Homo sapiens: one gene and its partners. The protein of the gene in region 4 interacts with the protein of the main gene of each other region in a pairwise test. Each region holds a gene or a part of one and is shown on either strand. Other genes may lie near its edges. The genes, in order: KRTAP1-5, KRT82, KRTAP19-1 and PLSCR4.

What was found.
Region 1: the proteins of PLSCR4 (region 4) and KRTAP1-5 interact in binary tests that used the Homo sapiens proteins (3 or more experiments, as listed by UniProt).
Region 2: the proteins of PLSCR4 (region 4) and KRT82 interact in binary tests that used the Homo sapiens proteins (3 or more experiments, as listed by UniProt).
Region 3: the proteins of PLSCR4 (region 4) and KRTAP19-1 interact in binary tests that used the Homo sapiens proteins (3 or more experiments, as listed by UniProt).

The regions. Positions count from the first base shown.
Region 1 is NC_000017.11:41,025,485-41,031,989, forward strand, and holds KRTAP1-5 (keratin-associated protein 1-5), read right to left. Parts: upstream 1,725-6,505; 5' UTR 1,672-1,724; coding exon 1,147-1,671; 3' UTR 542-1,146; downstream 1-541. Other genes in the region: KRTAP1-4 (keratin-associated protein 1-4), read right to left, coding at 4,229-4,594. UniProt on the Homo sapiens protein: In the hair cortex, hair keratin intermediate filaments are embedded in an interfilamentous matrix, consisting of hair keratin-associated proteins (KRTAP), which are essential for the formation of a rigid and resistant hair shaft through their extensive disulfide bond cross-linking with abundant cysteine residues of hair keratins.
Region 2 is NC_000012.12:52,393,418-52,396,369, forward strand, and holds the end of KRT82 (keratin, type II cuticular Hb2), read right to left. Parts: intron 2,816-2,952; coding exon 2,595-2,815; intron 2,374-2,594; coding exon 2,342-2,373; intron 1,779-2,341; coding exon 1,558-1,778; 3' UTR 514-1,557; downstream 1-513.
Region 3 is NC_000021.9:30,479,171-30,485,188, forward strand, and holds KRTAP19-1 (keratin-associated protein 19-1), read right to left. Parts: upstream 1,198-6,018; 5' UTR 1,148-1,197; coding exon 875-1,147; 3' UTR 536-874; downstream 1-535. UniProt on the Homo sapiens protein: In the hair cortex, hair keratin intermediate filaments are embedded in an interfilamentous matrix, consisting of hair keratin-associated proteins (KRTAP), which are essential for the formation of a rigid and resistant hair shaft through their extensive disulfide bond cross-linking with abundant cysteine residues of hair keratins.
Region 4 is NC_000003.12:146,241,065-146,248,111, reverse strand, and holds part of PLSCR4 (phospholipid scramblase 4), read left to right. Parts: intron 1-7,047. UniProt on the Homo sapiens protein: Catalyzes metal ion-induced ATP-independent rapid bidirectional and non-specific movement of phospholipids (lipid scrambling or lipid flip-flop) between the inner and outer leaflet of the plasma membrane and participates in the redistribution of phospholipids between membrane leaflets.

The DNA of each region.
Region 1 (6,505 bases), on a different chromosome or scaffold from region 4:
CATCTTGCTTCATCCCTTTCGTTGTCCACCTACCCTTACATGGCCAATGATCCTCAATAAAAGAAAAGCTCCCACATTTGCTTTCGACTTGGAAATATGTGTCTTTTTACCATTACTTAACTTTTTAATGCACTTTATGTCTTCTTTGGTGTCATATATAGGAAATTGCCATTTTGAGAGCTTGCTGCAGTTTATTGCATAGTGTAATGGAGTGCAGTAGCATGATCTTAGCTCACTGAAACCTCTGCCTCCTGGGTTCAAGCGATTCTCCTTCCTCAGCCTCCCAAGTAGCTGGGACTACAGGTGTGCACTACCACGCCCAGCTAATTTTTTTTTTTTTTTTTTGTATTTTTAGTAGAGACAGGGTTTCACCATGTTGCCCAGGCTGGTCTCAAACTCGTGAGCTCAGGTAATCCACTCACCTCAGCCTCCCAAAATGCTAGGATTACAGGTGTGAACCACTGCTCTTGGCCTCAAGTAGACATTCTTGAATTATAAGCAGTTAAACCAGGTGATGTACAAGTGAAAACAAAGACAATGGTTTCTTTGCCTAGTATATAATATTTATTAAGAAATGACAGAAGACATTGTATCACAGATATAACTGAAATATCCAGCAGGCAAGATCATTATGATCCAAAAACCAAGGGATGGATCAGATGTTAAAATGTGGAAAGTCCAGCCTACTTCTTAGAAGCTGAATGTTGGGTGATGAGCTTCCATTCTCTCTGGTGACTTGAGGAATGTCACTTGGCTATAATTTGGTGTCTTTGATGTTGCAAAAAATTTTAGGTAAACAAGATAAAATAGATTATAAAGCATGGAAACATTAGACTTGTGGATAGTTCTCATGGATAAATTCCACAACATGTCAGTAATTTTTAATCCTGCAGAAATATCAGAAATAGTATATCCCAAGCAAATTGATGATCAGCAGGTGGCTTTGTAGCATTTCTGTGTCCCCAGTGAAGGGTCAAGGTATTCATTGTAGAATGGAATCAGATAGAATTGTGAGCTCATATACTTAGTAGTCTCCATCACAAGCAATGCAAAGTCTGAGAACTTGTTAGTGGTCCAGAGGTGGTCAAGGGATGAACAGTTCAGAGACACTGTGACCTAGGCAATTGAAAATAAGCAAACTGGCTTTCAGCAAGTGGGCTCACAGCAGCAGACTGGGCGGCAGCAGGACTGTCCACAGTAGGACGGGCGGCAGCAGGAGGCCTGGGCATGGTGCAGTTGGCAGCAGGATGGGGGCGTGCAGCTCACCACACAGCAGGGGGGTAGGTAGGTGCCCTCCACACGACTGTCTGGGCGGCACCACCTGATACGGGTGCTCACAGCTCCACTGCTGCCCTCCTGGCCATAGCTGATGCCACCACCAATGCCACAGCCAGTTCCGCAGGAGCTGATCTGGCAGCAGCTTGGCTGGCAGCAGCTGGTCTCACAGCAGCTTGGCTGGCAGCAGCTGGTCTCACAGCAGCTTGGCTGGCAGCAACTGGAGCTGCAGGTCCCACTGGTTGAGAAGCTGGGAAATCCGCAGAAGCTAGTCTGGCAGCTGCGTGGCTGGCAGCAGCTGGTCTCACAGCAGCTTGGCTGGCAGCAGCTGGAGCCACAGGTCCCACTGATGGAGAAGCTGGGATATCCACAGAAGCTGGTCTGGCAGCAGGTCATGGTGTCAGAAGTTGGGTTAAGAGTTAGGTTGCTTGGAGGAGTTTCTGAGGTTTGGTGGTGACTTCCACGTTGGTCCTTTTATATATCTGAACCAGCTGCTGTTTACAAAATTGTTAACATATTTTCTTTGTTTTTGTTTAAATTTGTTACTCCGTGGATCTCTGATTGGCTTATGTTGAAATACTTGTGACACATTATGAGCAATAGTTTAGAAATTACTGTTTTATAGTTTCTTCTGGACTCCTCATATCAGTCCTTTGCTCTTTGGAATATGTTTGTGGTTTCCCATGTTCAAAGAGTACTTCCATTTTAGTCCAAATGAATGCTCTCATTTTACATAATAGTTATTCCACGTGACAATCTATCCATACCTCTAAGGCTAAGAGTAATAATTGTGCTGTTATATTTAACTATTATTTTTTCCTCCTAGATATATAGACTAAATTTTATTGAATTTTGGATATCTGGATATCTACTGAACTGAAGGAATACCTTTGGTCATACATAATTCGCAGATTTCACCTTTTTTTGTTCCAATGTCTTATTGAATTACCGATTATAGTTCCTTTGATTTCAACCAATTTGGAATGTGTGACTATTATTCCTGTTCCAGACCAGAAATCTGTTCTTGGGAACCAAACTGACATAGTATTTAGGAAGGTATCCAGCAGAGTCCTTAGTTTGTGGTAGAACCTTAATAAATGTTTACTGAATCTGATTCAATAAATGTTTATTGAATAGGTGGAGTAAAAGGCTTGATTCATGGATATCAATACCACTCAAACATGATTAAAGAGAACTTTCAAGCTGTAGTACTTCTCATGAAAGAGTCTTGTTATTTGCTGTAAAGAGACTAGGAAATGTGTTTTTTGGTTTATTTTATTTTATTTTTTGGATTTAGTAGTGGAACCGGGCTCGGGAAAAAATATCTAGGAGTTATGACACTTTGAAAAATGTACTGCCATCTACTTTATTCCTCTTGGAAATTGCATAATTTTGTGTGTAATCCATCATTGCTACCAATTAAATATAGAGGTAAGTTCTGGGAGCTTGTAAATAATGTGGAAAACGTGTTTCTTTCTATATTTGCATCCTATTGTATTTTGTGTATTACACTCTAATGCCTAATGAAGAATTTAAAAATTAAATGGTAAAATATGTTTTGTTTTGTTCTAGGTTGTGTTAATTTTTTTTTTTGAGACAGAGTCTTGCTTGTTGCCCAGGCTGGAGTGCAGTGGCGTGATCTTGGCTCACTGCAAGCTCTGCCTCCCAGGTTCACGCCATACTCCTGCCTCAGCCTCCCAAGTAGCTGGGACTGCAGGCACCCACGACCACACCTGACTAATTTTTTTTTTGTATTTTTAGTAAAGACTGGGTTTCACCATATTAGTCAGGATGGTCTCAATCTCCTGACCTCGTGATCCACCCATCTCAGCCTCCCAAAGTGCTGGGATTACAGGCGTAAGCCACCGTGTCCAGCGTGTTAACTTCTTAAGAGAATATCTTTTAAGTTGGGTTGCAAAGTGCAAAATATAATCGAGCTGTTTCAGATTTCTAACACTTCTGTCTGACAAATGGCAATGGTAGAACTCAGCGGGTGCTCTCTATAGCTGTTTCTTCTACTATCATTTAGACCAAAGATACACCTTATGCATACGTACATCAAATGAAGGTGAATAGTGGGAGTTGAAGCTTAGAGAGCAATTCAAGGATCAGTGGGAAGAATGTGAAAGGCTAAGGTGTAGAAATTAAACCTAAATTCTCTTGGAAAATAGGTAGTATCTAGTAGCTATTTTTAAATCTATTTAGAAGGTAATGCAATTTCTTTAGATTTTGGGGCATAAATGAAGGAGAACATTTAGTATATTAAATGGAAGGAGACAAAAGATGGTAGAATTACATTTAGATAGAAATCAATAGCTTTGATCAACCTTAACATTTTAGCTAAAGGTCAACCTTTATTGGTCTAGACCTAATCATAATAGATTAGAGCATGTAAATATTTGAACTATAAAAATTCTTTAATTCATGGAGCATTTTTAAGCTGATGGATTCAAGCATAATTTACTTTGTATTTAATCTTTCTGGTTTAGACTTTATGGTTATGCCTTGGTATTATTATCAAATTGCAAATCCACTCTTGAATACCAGCTACAAGAAGACATGTTTAAAGGTAGAAGGAGGACATAACTCAGTTTGCTTTGCACATTAAAACATTTTATTTGGATTAATCAGAGATATTCAAGGAAAAACCAGGTCTGAAGATGCATGAGCATCAAGAGAGAGTTGGGGGAGCAGAGATGTCACTGAAATGATGAACTATTCCATCCTGGTCCTCTGCTCAAGCAACGCAAGCTATCCAGAACACTGATTGATACATCTTTCAGTAAGTGAATTCGGCACATCCACAGTGTCCTAACTAGGAGTTTCATTATCTCTGAGCAGCTTAACAACATCATGGTACTTAGCATCCAAGTAAAATCGAACAGTTCTTCAGAAATCAGCACAATTTTGCTGTGCTTCCCCTTTCATTCTTAAGCGATCAGCAACCTGGCTTTTAGCAGGTGGGCTCACAGCAGTGGCAGCAGCAGGCTGGGCGGCAGCAGGACTGTCCACAGTAGGACGGGCGGCAGCAGGAGGCCTCGGCGTGGTGCAGCTGGCAGCAGGATGGGGGTGTGCAGCTTACCAGGTAGCAGGGGGGCAGGCAGGTGCCCTCCACGTGGCAATCTGGGTGGCACCACCTGATACGGGTGCTCACAGATCCACCGCTGCCCTCCTGGCCATAGCCAATGCCACCACCAATGCCACAGCCGGTTCCGCAGGAGCTGGTCTGGCAGCAGCTTGGCTGGCAGCAGCTAGTTTCACAGCAGCTTGGCTGGCAGCAGCTGGAGCCACAGGTCCCACTGGTGGAACAGCTGGCCATGGTGTCAGGAGTTGGGTTGAGAGCTGTGTTAAGAGAGGTTTCTGAGTTTGGGCTGTACCTTCTATATCTGTCCTTTGATATGTTCCCTAGAGCTGCATATTTACCCAACACCTTTTCTTGATGTCAATTTCAGTGTGAGTCTCTGGCTAATACCTGAGGTGTTTATAAAGTTATAAATAGCATTTCAATAGCCTTTTTCCATTGTACAATTAAGTCTCATTATGTTTCTTCTTTGCCCTCTGGGCGAAGTGAAGGCTCATCATGGAAGCCAAGCACCGAAGTGCCTCTTTATGCAAGTCACATGACAGACTAGCCTTGAGCCAAGTGTCGCCCTGGCACGTTTTGTCATAGTTGTCCTTTGATAACCTTTAGGCAGAATTTATCTTAACTGATCATTTTTCCTTAAATGGTCACTTAACTATGATCATGATTTTATAAACAATTTGTCCAGACTTGGAAAGACTAACATTAGTGTCATCAAAACATGAACTACAACCTGATGTATCAACTTTCAAACCAAGTATGCCTTTCTATGATCAATTTGTGCAAGTTATAGGATCCTCAGAGCTCTATCTAATATTCTTGCCTTCAGTAATAGTGAATGTACAAATTGCTAACTAAAATCTTTAATGACTTTTGCTTGTAGATTGTTTTCTGACTCTATTAAATTAAACATATGTGCTAGTAATGAGTACACATTGTAACAAGTCAAAGAGTACAGAGGTATATAAAGAAAAATTAGTGTCTTTTCCCTTCCTGGAAGATGCACACATCTCTTCCAAAACTAATGCTCTAGAGGTAATCAATATTAAGAATTTGGTGCACATTCTTTGACACCTTTATCCTTGCTTCTGCAAATATAAACCAGCATATATACATATATATCTTCTATTTCAGAAAAGTTTGGGTCTCCTACACATGTTTATAGTTACAAATTTTTAATTGTGGTAAAATATACATACCATAAAATTTATGAACCATTTACATTAACCATCTTAACCATTTGTAAATAGTCTTGTCACCCTTGTTGAAAATCATTTGACCACATTCACATTCAGAAGAAATGAAATTAGACCATTGTCTCACATTATATACAAAAACCAACTTAGAATGGATTAAAAGACTGAAATGTAAGAAAGACTCAAAATGATAAAACTATAAGAAGAAAACAGAGGAAACTCCATGACTTTTGCCTGGCCAATATTGTGATATTGTGAACATGAATCCAAAAGCATCAGCAAAAATAGACAAGTGGGATTACATCAAACTAAAAAGCTTCTGCACAGCCAATAAAACACTAAACTGAGTGAAGACGCAAACCGCTGAATGGGAGAAAATATTTATAAACCACATATCTGATAAAGGGTTAATATCCAAAGTATAGAGGAAACTCAAACAACTCAATACCTGTAGTAAGAAAACAAATAACGTAATTGAAAAATGGGCAAAAAATCTAAATAGACATTTCTCAAAAAAAATCTACAAATTGCCAACAGGTATATGAAAAATTTTCAAAATCACCAATCATCGGATAATGCAAATTGAAACCACAATGAGATATCGTCTCACACATATTAGATAGTTATTATCAAAAAGACAAAAGATAGCAAGTGTTGGAGAGGAAGTGGAGAAAAGAGAACTCTGGCACACTGTTGGTGGAAATGTAAATTAGTACAGCCATTATGGAAAACAATATGAAGGTTCATCAGAAAATTAAAAATAGAACTGTCATATAATCAAGCAATCCCACTTCTGTGTATATACCCGAAGGAAAGTAAATCAGTATTTTGAAGAGACATCTGCATTCCCATGTTCATTGCAGCATTACTCACAATAGCCAAGATATGGAAGCAACCTAAGTGTCCATGTCCATCATTAAATGAGTGGATAAAGAAAATGTGATACACACAC
Region 2 (2,952 bases), on a different chromosome or scaffold from region 4:
TCACAGAGGGTGGAAGCACCGCCGCCAAATCTCCAGGTCTTGGGCTCTCTAAATGGGGAGAGGAGACTGGAGTGTCCTGGTCCTCCTCACTCCATGGGCTGCCACCATCTTCACTGCTTTCCTGGAGCTGGGGGTATCCAGGCACTGAGAATGGTTCGGGATAGGGACAGAGCCTAGGGCTTGGGGGCTGCTAAGTCTAGACACAATAGAGGACCCCAAGGATTTTCTCTAGGATGTGTATAGGACACCATGTAGTGAGGAGGCCTGTGTGCAATGGGCTTGTGGCTTTTAACATGGCAAGTGACTTGCAAACCATTGGGGTGTGACGTGCAGGTTTTAAGTGTGATTTGTATAGAGCCCTATTTCTTCCACAGGCAATTTGCAAATTATTTACATGTAGTGTTTCTGTTTGTATAATAGTCTTCATTTCTGTTCCGAAGACTCCAGTCCCAAAAAGCTGCTCACCAGTTCCCCCTCAGCCTTATCACACTTTCCACAGAGCAGAGTAAATAATCCTGATTGCTATAATCCATGAACAGAGTAGGTTTATTTTGAACAGAAGCCCAGATGTTCAGGGCAGAGGCCCTGGAGCCCCAGTGGGACAGGCTTGGCATGAGGGGCTTCTGGGAGGTAGTCAGCCCACACCTCCTCCATCTATGAGCTCCTGAGCCAGGGCCTCCAAGTCAGCTGGGGCAGCCCCACATCACTGTCATATCAGACTCAAAGCAAAAGGAGCTAAAGGGTTGGGGAACAGGAAGGGGCGGCTATGTACAGAAGGGGATGGGTGGAGGGGGAACTGATTCCATTGAGAAAATGGTATCTGTTTTTGGTTTTCCAACTGTCCAGTAAACATTCCATATCCCTTTGCCCTTTGTTCTAGGCATTGGCCTGACATCACCTGCCAATGTGAGCTCAGGAGAAAGATTTATTCTCACAGTTTGGGTTCAACATACCTGAGAAAGTAAATCTACTGCCCAAAGGCCACCTCTTGATTCTCTGTGCTGAGAGGACATTGGCAGGTCCTGACTGATCCTGAAATCGTGGCACTTGGCTTTGGAATTTAGAGTGGGATTTGGGGGTGTCTCCTTTTGATATTTGCAGTGTGCATGTTTCAGGCGGTGTTAAAGGAAATTCACTTTTCTTAGGGGCATGAGAGCCTAAAGTAAGGGCAGTGTGAGCCTGTGGTGGGAGAGGAGCTGACTTTGTGAGGAAACTTCCATGGGATGATCCACAGAGCAGAACTGTGGTGTGCCCATTTGACCTTTTGGGGGTTATTGCCATTCTGCGGTTAAGAGCAATGCATGCTCTTTCTCTGCCGTCTGTCCCCACCATCTGGGCCTAGCTGAGGGTCTGCACACAGGTGAGTGGAAGGTGACTCATGAGGCAAAGGAGGGGTCCTAGGGGCAGCTCAGCTCTCAAGGAGGGAACACTGGAGGGGAATGTGGAGTCAATAAAGGGAGGTGGGGTTTTGGAACATCCTTGTCTTCAGCCCTGGTGGGAGTGTGACATCCAGGGCCATGGGGCAGGGGCTCTGTCTCCTGGATGTCTCGGATCATGCTAATGCTTGTGGCTGGGGGAGCTGCCCCCAGCTCCTAGCGTCATGCTGGATTTCCGCCCGCTCCCACAGCTCAGTAGCCCCTGGGGCTCGCAGGGGACATAGAGTTCACCAGTGCCCACGATGCTGCAGCCCCCATTGCTCCTGAGGACGCCAGTGCTGAGGACAGGCGTGCTGACCCCACATGGCTCGTACAGGAAGGCGCCTTTGGAGCTGCTCACTGCTGTGGGAACAGGAAGGGGTGCTCAGGGCCCCACACGGTGTGGCTCTCAGTGTACTGCCCTGAAACTACTCAGCCAGGCCATTCCTCCCACCTCCTGCCACTCACCTCTACAGACACCCCATTCCAGCCTCCAGCCTCCGCGTCTCCCACCCTAGCCACATAAAGTGCTTGCAAGGTCCCCATGCACCTCTCTCCTTTCCCTAGAGCCTGGGCAAGGCCAGGCTGGATTCAGCTTCACCATTTCTCAGTTTCTACTGGTCCCTCCTTCCTAAGCTTGCTTCAAATCCTCTTCCTCTAGAAGAGCATCCTCTTGTCAGGGTGGTTATTTGTGGCTTCTGGGCCCTGAAGCACTTGGACCATGTTGTTGCAAATCTGCTCCTAGTCTGACTCCCAAAAGATTTGGATAGCCCTTTCCACCAGCCTGGGAGCTCACGGCAGACAGAGCTCTTCCTTTGGGGTAGGGGAGGCATCAGAGGTCTAGGAAGGGGTGGTGTGGGCTGCCTGTGTTGGGGTGATCAACCCCCAAGACTCCAGAGCCAGTGGGGCATGGCTCATCTACTTACAGATATTCACGGGCCCGATGCCTTCGCACAGCCTGGGGATGAGAGGAAAAAGAAAACAGGTATCTACATCAAACAGATGCAGGTAAATGCAGCATCTCCCCGCTCCCGCCCTCATTGTGGACCATGTGCTGCTGTGGGTTTTCAATGAATGTGGGTAGGGGACGGGGTGAGAGATACTAGCAGCCGCCACCAGAGGGCTGGGTAATGGCCATACCTGGTAGCCCATCTTTGACCCCCTCCTGGAGGAGCTCACCTGTGCTCTTCACCCTCCAGCAGGCGCCTGTAGGTGGCGATCTCGATGTCCAGGCCCAGCTTGGAGTTCATCACCTCCTGATATTCCTTGAGCAGGCAGGCCATGTCCTGCTTGGCCTTCTGCAGAGCCTCCTCCAGCCCTGCCAGCTTGCACTTGGCATCATTGAGAGCCGCCTCGCCCTGCTGCTCTGCCTCAGCTATGGCACCCTCAAGTTTGCAGCGCTGTGGGAGGGGCGCAGAAAAGCATCACTGGGGGCCCTGGAGCCCCAAGCCAGACTCGCAGAAGAGCAGAGAGAACACGGGGGTGGCTACGTGCCAGGCTCACATTTGCGAGCTTCATCCTAGGATTGCGACATCTG
Region 3 (6,018 bases), on a different chromosome or scaffold from region 4:
CATTTTTTGTACAACATTGTGCCACTGGGTTTCAGTGCCGCATTTCAGTGGGAGTTGCCTCAGTCAAATATTGGACAATGGCCTTCAGGGAGATGCTAAATATAGAATGTAGTTCTGAGTAGGAAATGAGTGAAACTTCCCAATCTCCTTGCCGCAACCTCAACTGAAGGGTGGACAAAAAGCAAACACATGCCTGGCCAGAACAGGGGTACCAAGAAGACGTTCAGCTAACAGCAACCAACGTTGCACAGCAGAATATGAGAATGACACTATCCTTAGTGATTCCAGGAACACTTGAGGGACACTTGAGAGGGGCTGACATCCTAAGTAAATAGACAGGCAAGTTATTTTTATCTCTTGTTAATATGATATCTTATTTGTTCTCAAGCTTCCGTTAACACAGTAAACTAGAAACATTTTCATCATATTCCACCATGGAGCCACAGATCTCACTGCCTCATAAGTAAACTTTTTATAGTAGTTGCAAAATAAAATGTTAAATATGACAATGGAAACATTGACAAGAACTAAAATATTTATACTTTACTTCATTTATTAGATAAAAGCAAAATACAAGTTTTTGCTAGGATCTTGATAGATAACATCAAGGTAATGGTGGTAAGAAAAATAAAGCAAATTTAGAAGAACAACCTAGAGTAGTTATACATGAATATGATTTCAGGTGACGGACTCCGAAAGTAAAAAGACAACAAATATTCACAGAAGCAGCTTAAATCTATTTTAAAGATTTAACATAGCTAAATATCTCTCCATTGATGCTGAAGGCAATAGAATGGATTTTTGGAATGAAAGCACGGGACAGGACCAAACACATTTGGAGGTTTCTCCTCTGCTTCCAATTTCAGCAATTCATTTAATAAAAGCCAGAGAATCCGTATCCTCCATTGTACGATGGGCGGCAGCAGCCATATCCATAGCCTCCAAAGCCAGAGCCATATCCGTAGCCTCCAAAGCCAGAGCCATATCCGTAGCTTCCAAAGCCAGAGCCATATCCGTAGCCTCCATAGCCACAGCCAGAACCCCGTCTGCAGAAGCTGCCACATCCACAGCCATAGCCATAGCCCAGGCCACCGAAGCCTCCACAGCTGTAGCCCAGGCCTCCGTAGTAGCTGCCGTAGTGACTCATGGTGTCAGGAGTGGTGAGTTGGTTTGTTGTTCAGGCAAGATCCTGAGTGTGAATGCCAGCATGTATAGGAGGTTTATATACCCTGGTCAGAGCATGTGATAAACATGTGCCCCTCTTTTTGTGTCATTCCATGAATTATACTTGCCTGAGGCAGCTCGTTAATCTATTGTCCCCTGACAACACTCAGTAAGATTGCCTGAGCTTGTTTGGCTACCTAGTTAGGTTGTCCCTGAGCTTGCTGCTTTAATTTTATTAGAAGGGATTGCTGCTTCTTCAAAGTCTAAAACATACCAAACCTTAAATAGAATTCTTTATTACCAGTCACTTAACATCAGTCACATTAAAAATTCTTGAATTTCTATTCAAATATATTCTCATCACTAGCATTTTTGGACGTGGTTATAGTTGATTCCACAAAATTTCAAGAAATAGCCAAGGTCAAGACTCTTACTTTCATCAGTTTCTTCATAAAACACACATATTTTGTAGAGTGAGAAGCAAGAAAGATTTGATTCATCTGTGTATGTACCTGAAAGAAACAAATGTCACCTAATTTGTAGACTTTTAAAACTTTGATCATGCACAATTGTTATATTTATTTTGGGCTTTGCACAACAGCATACAAAATATTTGTTTTGTTTTAAGAACATAGCACAATTGTAGTCATAAGTGGAGAGACTCTTACAGGGATCAAAAGCCCATCTCATCTGGTCTTTCCAGAGTTTTCTATTTATATCTCAAGTCCCTTCTCCATTATATGTTCTAACCTCACTGTTACCAAAAAATGAAGATTATAATCTGCCTTCATACAGAATTGTTTCTCTTTCTCTACCTTTTGTCATTAATTCATCCCTCTTGCATCTTTTGCTGATCTCACTTCAAATTTCACCCAACTTCTTTTCCTCCACAATTCATTACTATAACCAGGTAAAAGTTTGAAGTAGGTAAAATGTTCTGGCTACAACCTATTTACTCAAATCAACATTCATTCTTTCCATTTAGATCTCCATAGTCAATATTTGCCCTTGTCTTTGCCTATTCTGTGCCCATGTTTTTTGTTGTGCTTTGTTTTAACCGCTTTCTAGTTATCTTTTCCTGAGAAATCAACTAGATCTTCTAAGATATTGATTATGGTGTTTCTTGTTTAAAACATTTTTCAACTCTTCAAATTATCTGAAATTTAAAAAAATATTTGTGCAACTTAGATTAACACGAAATTCTCTAAATGTAAGGGACAATTGTGAAAAATATAGAAAAGAAGGAGTAGCTCTGTAGGGAGAGTTGACCAGTGAGTCCCTCAGCTCAGCCCATAGAGTTAGAAATGCCCAAGGCTTACCTCATACCTGATTAAGCCTCATCCAGATGTACCTATATCTTGAAACTTGGAACTCCAGAAAGGTATCAGTTTTATATGACTATAATCATACTACTAAGATTTTTTTGAGATTTATGAGTAACCGAATGACACATTTTAAAATTTTTATTTTATTTAAATTTTTTATTGATACATATTTTACATACTTATTAGATACATATGATATTTAATTGCATGCATAGAATGTATAATGTTCAAGGTAGAGTAATTGAAATATCCATCACTTTAAATATTTATCATTTCTTTATGTTGGGAATAAATCAAGCTCTCTCTTCCAGCTACTTTGAAATATACAGTATATTGTTGTTAACTATAGTCACTCTGCAATAGAACTTATACCTTTCATCCAACTTTTATCTCTCCTGCACCCACACACCCATTCCAGCATCTGATATCTATCACTCTTTTCTCTACATTCATAAGATTAACTTTTTTATCTCCCACTTATGAGTGAGAACATGTGATACCTCTCTTTGTGTGCCTGTTTATTTCCCTAAACATAATGACTTTCTGTTCAAGTCACACTTTTTTTTTTTTTACAATGCGGTGTTTCTCTGACCTGCTGAGTGTCAAAACAAAGTCTCATATTTAGTTGGCATTCAAAAATATTATTTGAATGAAGCATATGACTTTGACATCAATGCAAGGGCCATGAATAGCATAACATGAGCAACTTACTGGCTATTCTGGGAGATGTTGTAAGGCTGAACGCAAGTTCCAACAAGATTCCTGCTGTCAGAGTAGCATTTAACCCAACAATAGCCTTCCTCTTTGATGTCTGTGTTACTGTAACCCAATTTCATTCCATTTTTATTCTCCATTTCAGAAAATCAGTCAAGTGATACAATTCATATATACATTTCTAATGAAACACTTAGAATTATGAATAAATTACATAGCATTAAGAATTTCACATTTTCTTGTGTAGCTCTGTCAGAGCATGTGACCATGATTAAAGGCTATTTTGTTTGTTTTTGATACATAAAACTGTCTCTATATGGAAATAATATGAGACACAAATGCGAAACTTCTATAGTACAATAAACACTAAATGTATTTTCAAAGAATAAAACATATGACTATGACATGCATAGCTTATTTTGTCCACTAGCCGTGTAAACTAGAAAAAAAATTTGAAGAATATGTAAAAAATCTGATTTATTTTCTGTATATGCAAGTGAAAAAAGTCTCTGAAATTTCCTTTGAGGGGTTATTCTTTTTCTATCCATTTATTGGATCAAAAGTAGATTTGGATCATTATTGCTTTTTAAGAACTGTTAGCTCATGACCCTATTTTCTACTCATGTTGATAGGTGGAAGAGTGAAAAATGTTCTCACATTTTTCCTGGAAGTAAGGAAATTTTTGTTATAAATTTTCTATCATCTCAGAAATTATTCAATACAACCTTAAACAGCATGAAATTATAAGATTGATTATAGTAATAACAATAGCAGTAACAATTATATTGATTACTGCTTTTCAGCCCCATGGAAACTATCCCTGGGACATTATCCAAATGAGAAGAAAATGCTTCTAGTGAAATCCTATTCTACTGGGTCAGACAATATTGCTGACCTCCCATAGAGTTACTTTGCTGTATTTCCCCTGTTCAGCCCATTGTTGTAGTACACAGAATGCCCTGAGAGCATTGACTCAAAGAAGAGGTCATGGCGCTTTGTTTTGTTTTTTAACTTAGAGTCTGATTTTAACATTGCTCATTGGTTAGTTACAATCAGAAGTAGATAAACTAAAATTTGATTGGTTTAATTCTGTATATCGCAACAATAAAAATGAAACATCAATGTTAATGTAAGAAAAAGGGCCAACCTTCATAAAAGCAGTTGAGATAATTTAGCTTTTCTTACAACTATGACCAGAACTTTCAGAATGGTTATCTGACAACAATCAAGAAGAAAATGCATAAAAGGTGAGTCTGCAAAGTATAGTCTAAAACCTGGGACTCAGGATGGCATGATTCTGATCCTAGTCTTGGCACCAATTATGACAAAAATAACATATTCTGAATTTCTGTGCCTCCAAAATTGGAATACAGCGTTGCAGAATTGTAATGCCTCTTTCTGCTCCTTGTGTGATTTAATTTTTGTCCTCATTTTATTACATTTGGCGAGCTTGTACAAAACATCTGTAGGCACATATCATTGCCTGAAATTCTGTTTTATAAAAACAATATTGTTTTGGCCATTTCTTGAAAGGATGAGGTTTCACTGAAATTTATCTTCATATGTATATATATATGTGTGTGTGTATATATATATATATGTATAGAGAGAGAGAGAGAGAGAAGTATGTATACATAATGATATTGATATAAGACATATAGAAATATATAAAATGATATTTGTATAAAATATATACATTATATACAATATATACTATATATGTATGTATTATATATTTTATATATAATATATAATAAATAAATTAATATTTCATTAATATTTAAACATATACTTCTATATATTAATAAATATAAATAACAAATTATCAATAATCATATTGAAATATAAATAAAATAATATTTATTATTCATAATACATATAAATATAAAAATATATTTATTTATATTTAATATATAAATTTATGTAATATTTAAATATATACTCCTATATATTTAAATGTAATATTTAAATATATACTCCTATATATTTAAATGTAATATTTAAATATATACTTCTATATATTTAAATATACATACTTCTATATATTTAAATATTAAATGACACTTTTAGTCAGTTGAAACTACAGAATATTTTGCCTCATAATAATGTTTCTGTGTGTTTATAGTCCCTACTGCATTACAAATCCTTCAGTATAATGATGATAATAAAGAACACAATATTCCTATAAAAAGACAAGTGAAATGAGTTGAATGACTACAATTCACATTTTATTATCCAGTTTATCAAGGACTTTTAGGTCAGGCTTGTTGTACATGCATAACAAACTAGATGAAAGCAGAAAATTATGAATAAAAGAAGATTATAGATAATGCAAAGATTCATAGAAAAAGAGAGTTCACTTCTCTTTAAGTTTTAGGGATATAGATTATAAGATTTGTGAGAAGAAAGTTTGTTTTTATTACAGTTTTAATGATATGAATGTTGTGATGCTTAATTTTAAGTGTCAATTTGACTCTGTTAAGGGATGCTGGGATAGTTGGTAAACTATTTCTGGGTTGTCTGTGAGGGTTTTTCCAGAAGGATTCATATTTTAATCTGTAGACTGAGTAAAGATCACTCTTACCAGTGTATGTGAGCATCATTTAATCTGTTGAAGACCTAAATAGAACTAAATGGGGAAGGCAAAGGGAGTTTGCTCTCTGAGCTGGGATCTTCATCCTCTCCTATCCTCACACATCAGCATTCCTGGTTAGAGCATTTGGTCTCAGATTGAAACTTAACATCATTGACTCCCCTGTTCTCTAACTTTTGGGTTTGGACTGGAAGTACTAGACCAGCTTTCCTGGGCCTCTAA
Region 4 (7,047 bases):
GGGATTTCACAACCAGTTAACTTTTATAAACAAAAAATACAGCAATGTTCATACTCATATGTTCACCAGCATTGTGCTAAAATTCATTTTTATAGTACTCATTCTTCAGGATGAAAGAGATAGATATGCTAGTCCTTAAAAAGAAAAACATCTAAAGTTGGAAAAAAATTGTTTTTAATTGCATGGTAAGGCTGGGTGGCGGTAGCTCACGCCCGTTATCACAGTACTTTGAGAGGCAGGGGTGGGCAGATTGTTTTAGCCCAGGAGTTTGAGAGCAGCCTGGGAAACATGGCGATACCCCACCTCTAAAAAAATTTAAAAATTAGCCAGGCATGGTGGCACCCACCTGTAGTGCCAGCTGCTCAGGAGGCTGAGGTAGGACAATTGATTGAGCCTGGGAGGTCAAGGCTGCAGTGAGCCATTATCATGCCACTGCACTCCAGCATGGGCAACAGAAAGAGACCCTGCCTCAAAAATAAAACTGCATGACAAAAATGCAGTGAAGACAAATGATAAGTTTTGAAAAGATAATTTTAATATAAAATTTTAATACCTTTCATATAAAGAAGACAAATGAAAAGCTAACAAAAATGAACAAATGACAAACAGGCAGTTCACAGAAATAGAGTTGCAAATTGCTTTCAAACAAATAATAAAAGTGGCTCAGCCTCCTCATTATGAGATATATGGAAAATAAAACCAATTTTTTTTTTTTATATATCAGATTGACTACTACAAAAATGTTGATAAAATACTGTATTAGGAATGTAACTTTTTGTCTGGGGTCTAAATTGATTCAAATTCTTTAGAGTGCAGTTTGATAGTATCTTTAAAAATGTACAAAACTTTGATCCATCAGTTCTGCTTCCAATAATTTAATGCACAGATCCACAGGAAGAAAATATTTTTTTCAGCATTTTTGGTAATAGCCTAAATTTGGAAACGATTTAACTTGTTGTCATTAGGCAGCCAGTTAAATACATTATGTTGCAGCCATTAAAAAGAATGAGGTTATATGGACTGAAATGTAATTAACATCAAGACATTTTAATAAATGAAAAGAAAAAGACACAGAAAAGTATATAGATGATTGCCATTTTATAAAAACTGTGTGTATTAGTTTATATATGCTTAGAAAATCTATTGGAGGAAAAAAAATCTAATGTCTGTGGTTGCCTTTTCAAATGGGAAATGGGAATTGGAGTAGGTGGGATTTTTTTGTATAAATGTATTGTGTAAATGTATGCACTGCCGACTCCTTGAATTATATTTGTGTTTGTTTGCACATAACATCTGTTTTTTAAAAGTCTGTTTTCATAAATGTAAAGTTTCTTATCAAAGTGACTTAACTGTATGCAACATGACATCTTGTTTTACTACAATTTTAAATACTAAAAGACTAGCTGTAAAATGACACAATGAGGCGTTCTTGGTAATCATAGTTGGCATGGTAATGTTTCCTTAATGTCTTATATAAACATCATGAGAATATTGTTCTGATATTTTTCTACTCTAAATAACAAAAACATTTCCCTTTTGAAAGCTAAAAAGGAGACACCTGATATTCTCTTTAAACAATTTGAACTAAATTAATATATTTAATAAAGGTTATGTATGGACTGTGGCTATCAATTTGCTTTCATTTAATCTTATCTTTTATTTTATATTAAAGCCAAATAGCTAACCTCCAAGATCCTTCACACTTGCTAAAAAGAATGAAATATTCTACCATACACTTTTTCTTTTGAAGGAGTCATGATGTTAATAAAATAATAAATATATTGATATAGGTTATAAAAACAACACAATAAAAATCTTAGGTTTTGCCCTTGTAATTTGTTGAACATTAATCACTCCCTAAGTTTCTTCTAGAATTGATTTTATGCAAAGATACAATTAAATACATATATGTTAACATGTAATTATAATGAAGATACTGTGTATCTATGGGACATTCCTGCTGCAGCATATTTTATCAACATGGACCTAGGTTTATCTTTTGTGCAAGCCTGGAATTCGTTTCTCTAATTTCAGCCCATGTGACAGAAACTTACTAAGTTTACAAGATGTCTACAGAAATGACTGAATCCTTCAGTCATTGGACTTTAATCCACTCATATTGAGCCCACTGAACTATCCAGTTCCCTATAGCCAAGAAACCCATAAAAGTAATTAACACAGTCCACCATAGGAGCCAAGAAATTTGGCTTAAAGTCTATAAAGAGGATTGTACTTGGAAAGGTGTGCATAATATTTCCTCTTTGATGAACATGCAGGTCTTTTTAGTTACAGATTCACTACAAGAGAGTACATTGTCAGGTTTTAAAAATTATTTTAAAAACTCAGTTTATATAATTTATTATACATTTATTGTAGAAAATTTAAAGAGGAAATGTTTATATCTTAGCATGTTTCCTCCAGTTTCCATATTTTTTAAAAACATTGCTATCATTATAATTATCCAGATTATATGTTTAACATTTGAATGTAAACATTTAATGATTTTTACAAAACTGTTACTATATTTTTAAAGGAAAATTATTTTATCATAATGTTTCATGATAATGTGTTTACTTAACAATTGTGCTTGATATTTATGTAGTTTACAATCACTACTATTTTCGTTTTGCATTCCTTCTGTGAAAATGAGAATGTATCACTTAAAAATATTATATGGCATATTTTGGATTTATTTTGAATTTGGTATAGAGGAAATTTACTTGGGTTTACAAATGAGATTTGAGAAAAAATAGATATGTCTTATATTGGTAAACTGAACATTTGATTGAATGTATTATGATTCCTACAGCAGATAGGTTTTTATCTGAATGGGGTAAAATTTCATAGATCTGTAACTGAGGGGGTGTGTGTTGGGGCCAGGAGGGGATATATTAAAATCATCTGGGAAATGGCTTCCATTTTCTTTCCTTATCCATAGAAGCAATGATCCTTTTAAGCTTTATCATGAGACTGCAACAATTCGGTAACATCTTCATGCTTCACTTCTAACTCTTAGTTCTCTTGCTATTCTCTCACATCTGCAGGTACTTCATCCAATGAAGTCTTGAACCACGCAAAATCATCCAGGAGGGTTGGAATCAACTTCTTCCAAGCTCCTGTTAATATTTATATTTTGACTTCCTCCCATGAATAACAAAAGTTCTTAGTGGTATCTAAAATGGTGAATCCTTTTTAGAAAGTTTTCAATTTACGTTGCCTAGATTCATCAGAGGAATCTAGGCCTAGCTTTTGGCCTGTCTTTGCTTTCAGCATGCCTTCCTCATTAAGCTTAATCTTTTCCAGCTTTTTGACTTAAAGTGAGAGATGCACGAACCTTCTTTTCACTTGAATATTTAGAGGCATTTGTAGGCTTATTAATTGGCCTAATTTCAATATTGTTTTGTCTCAGGGAATAGGGAGGTCCTAGAATAAGGGGAGAGATGGGAGAATAGTTGCTCTGTGGAGCAGTCACAACAACACTTACTAAGTTCACCATCTTATATAGGCATGGTTCATGGGGTCCCAAAACAATTATAATAGTAACATCAAAGATCACTGATCATAGATCACCATAACAGATTGTTATGAAAAAGTCTGAAATATTGTGAGAATTACCAAAATTTGACAAAGAGACAAACTGAGAAGTTGCTGTTCTGCAAAATGGCACTGATAGACTCCTTGATACAAGGATGCCACAAACCCTCAATTTGTTTAAAAAAATGGAGTATCTGTGAATCACAGTATAGCAAAGCACAGTAAAACAAGGCATGCATGTACATAATGAGGTATCTTGAGAATGGGACCCAAGTAAACATGAAATTCATGTTCCATTATGTTTTAAACATATAGCCTGAAGATAATTTTATACAATATTTTTGATAATGTTGTGTATGAAACGTTTACGTACGTTGAACCATCAGAAAGCAAAGGTATCAGTATCTCAATCACCCATGTGGACAATCTGTGGTTATTTGACGTCACCATCATTCCTGACTCTAAATTCATTATGCTACTGATAAGTAATCATTTTCTTACATTACTCACAAATAAGTGCTTAACAGTAAAAAATAGGATGTATCATTAGTACAGTGAAAAGAGAATGCGTTCAGGGTAACTAAGCAGCACAGTAGTATCTCCAGAATGCCTGTGTCGGAAAGCCACCAATAAGCAATGGCAGGCTTTCATTCTTTACCTACAATGCTGTATTTTGATTACAAGGTTATCATTCACTGAATTTTATTATTTTAAGTGAGAAGAAATATCAGAAGTAGCCAAGTGACCAGCAAGTGTTTTCTCTACAAATGAGGAAGCATTCTGATGGATGACTTTTCAGAATGTTTCCTCTGGAGTCCGCTGTCTCATTAACAATGGTTTTTGTCTTAGAAGTCTCTGTTGATTTTACAGACTGACACAATTTCTTATTCTGTGATGAATGAATGCTCTTAGAGTCCTTCAGTAAACCCATCACATATTTTCACCATGTCATCTATAGGCACTTTGCAGTTTTAACAGTGTCCTCATCATCTTTCACTTGTGACATCATGTTGGTGCTGAAAGTTTTGGATTTTTGAGCATTTCAGATTTTGGACTTTTGGATTAGGGTTGCTTAGTCTATACAGCATTTTATGTGCCCGAACTCTGCATGAATATTATAATCTTTTCTTAAAGTTAGAGATTGGTTCATCCTTTTTGTTCATTTCTTTGTTTTCAAGAATAAATGACAACACAGTTTTTGTTTTGCTTTCTATTTTTTTGTTTTTCAAGAGTTTTGGAGCATAGTCAGGATCATGATGATAAGAAAGAGATGTATATATGTAACAAACCTGCATGTTGTGCACATGTACCCTAAAACTTAAAGTATAATAAAAAAAAAGATGTATACAGTTGGTAGAGCATATTGTTAGCAGGAGTTTGAGAAGAGGGGTTTCAGTCAATTGAGAGATCCCCATGGAAGAAGCAGGATGAAATACAGATAACAGAACTAATTCTTACAAATTTTTTTTCTGAAAATGGTCCAAGTGTCAATTAGGAACTTTCCAGGTTTGATTTGAAACCCCCACCACAGAATTTGTTTTTCCTCCCTGAGAGATTGATGGGTTACTGTTTTGGGATTAAAGCCTTTGGGGGCTTTCTCTGGTGGAGAAATAGTTCAGACAAAAGGTAGTGGATCCATTAGATGGCTAATATAAAAGTGGACAATGTATTTTCCAGTTGCATGAGTGTTTACCATAAAGGCAGACATCTTGGGGCATAGGGTTCTTTATTTTGGGATCCTCTTGGGCCCTGTAGCCTTTACAACTGTAAAGACATAAACCTGTTTGCCTTTCGTAAGGAATTTTCCCACTGTAGCCATTCTAAGTTACTTTTGCTAAGGTTCTCCCATTCGTCTCGAAAAGCACAGGTTCTGGGTCTCTGGTTTTTATACATGAAGTTGGCTAGAATTCCAGAGGGCGAAGCTCTAGCAACCTTTGACCAGATAAACCCATGATTCTATGTCTTTTATTAACCTTTCCTACCTACTAACTGAGTTGAGTTTATGTCTGACCCAGTCAAATACCTGAGGCCTCCCTACTGGGCCCAGTCCTGTTGTTGGCATGACTTTGAAACCCAGTGTAGATCAAAAATGCTCAAACTCAGCTCAAATCAGAAGTTCATGAAGCTTAGATTCAAAAATCTCACCCATGACCCCAGTTGCTGCGAAAGAGCAGTGAGTACACTGGGCATGCTGGGTACCTTAACTTGGTCACTCAGTGCTCCTGGGATCACTGGAAGTTTGCTTCAAGATCTGACTTCTCATGTGAAACTCTTAAAAGAAAAACTTTAGGCAAATTCAGCAGAGTTTATCTGAGCGAAAAACGATTCATGAATCAGGCAGCCCTCAGAACCAGAAGAGTTTCAGAGAGCTCCACCGAGCAACATGGGCAGGCAGTATTCATAAACAGAGGAAAGAAGTGACGTACATAAATCAGTTGATTGGATCCAGCCTGGTATTTGCTTTATTTGGTCATGGTGTGATGAGGCATTTGCCTTCAACGGACATGGTCTGATCAGTTGACAGCCCGTGATTGGCTGAAGCTCCACTACCATCATTGGCTGAGACTCAGCTACTTGTTACAAGAATACAACCTCAAATCAAGTTGCAGTCTGCTATTTACAGAGGCAGCTTTAGGCCCAATTTAATTTATCAGGTTATGATTTAGATTACGTAGAAATGTGTTGTTTTATTTTTATGTGGTTAGAGAATTTCCTGTTATCTTGCGGTTAGTAATTCCTAGCTCATTACATTATGGTCGGAGAACAAGCTGTATTATTTTAATTTTTTTGTAATATTTTAAGATTTGTTTTATGAGCCAGAATGTGGTCTGTCTGGGTGAATGTTCCGTACGTTGAAAATAATGGTTATTCTAATGCTGTTGGGTGGGTGTCCTACAAATGTCAGTGTTGGTTGATGATGCTGTCTAGTTGTGCCAATATCATTGCTGATTTTTCCTCTGCTTGTTCTTGTAGATTACTAAGAATGGAGTGTAAAAGTCCTCAACTGTAACTGTGGATTTCTCTTTATTTTTTTCAATTTTGCCAGTTTTTCCTTCATGTATTTTGAAGCTCCATTGTTAGGATCAGTCATGCTTAGGATTGCTGTATCTTGTTAAGAAATTGTCTCTTACTTTTAAGTGATAGCCCTTCTTATCTCTGGTAATTTTCTTTGCTCTGAAATCTACTTGTGAGATATTAGTATAACCACTCCAGCTTTCTTTTTCTCTGTAATGACTTTGTTGAGACATAATTCACATACCATAAAATTCACCCATTCAAAGTGTACAGTTGAGTGATTTTTAGTATATTCAGAGTTGTGAAGCTATCACCACAATCTAATGTTAGAATAATTTCATAATTCCAAAAAGAAACCCATGCCCAATAACAGTCATTTCCCATCTTCTTGAAGCCACAAATCTACTTTATGCCTTTATAAACTTGCCTATTCTGGATAGTTCACATCAGTAGAATCATGTACTATATGGTTTTTTTGGTGACTGACTTCTTTCTAGT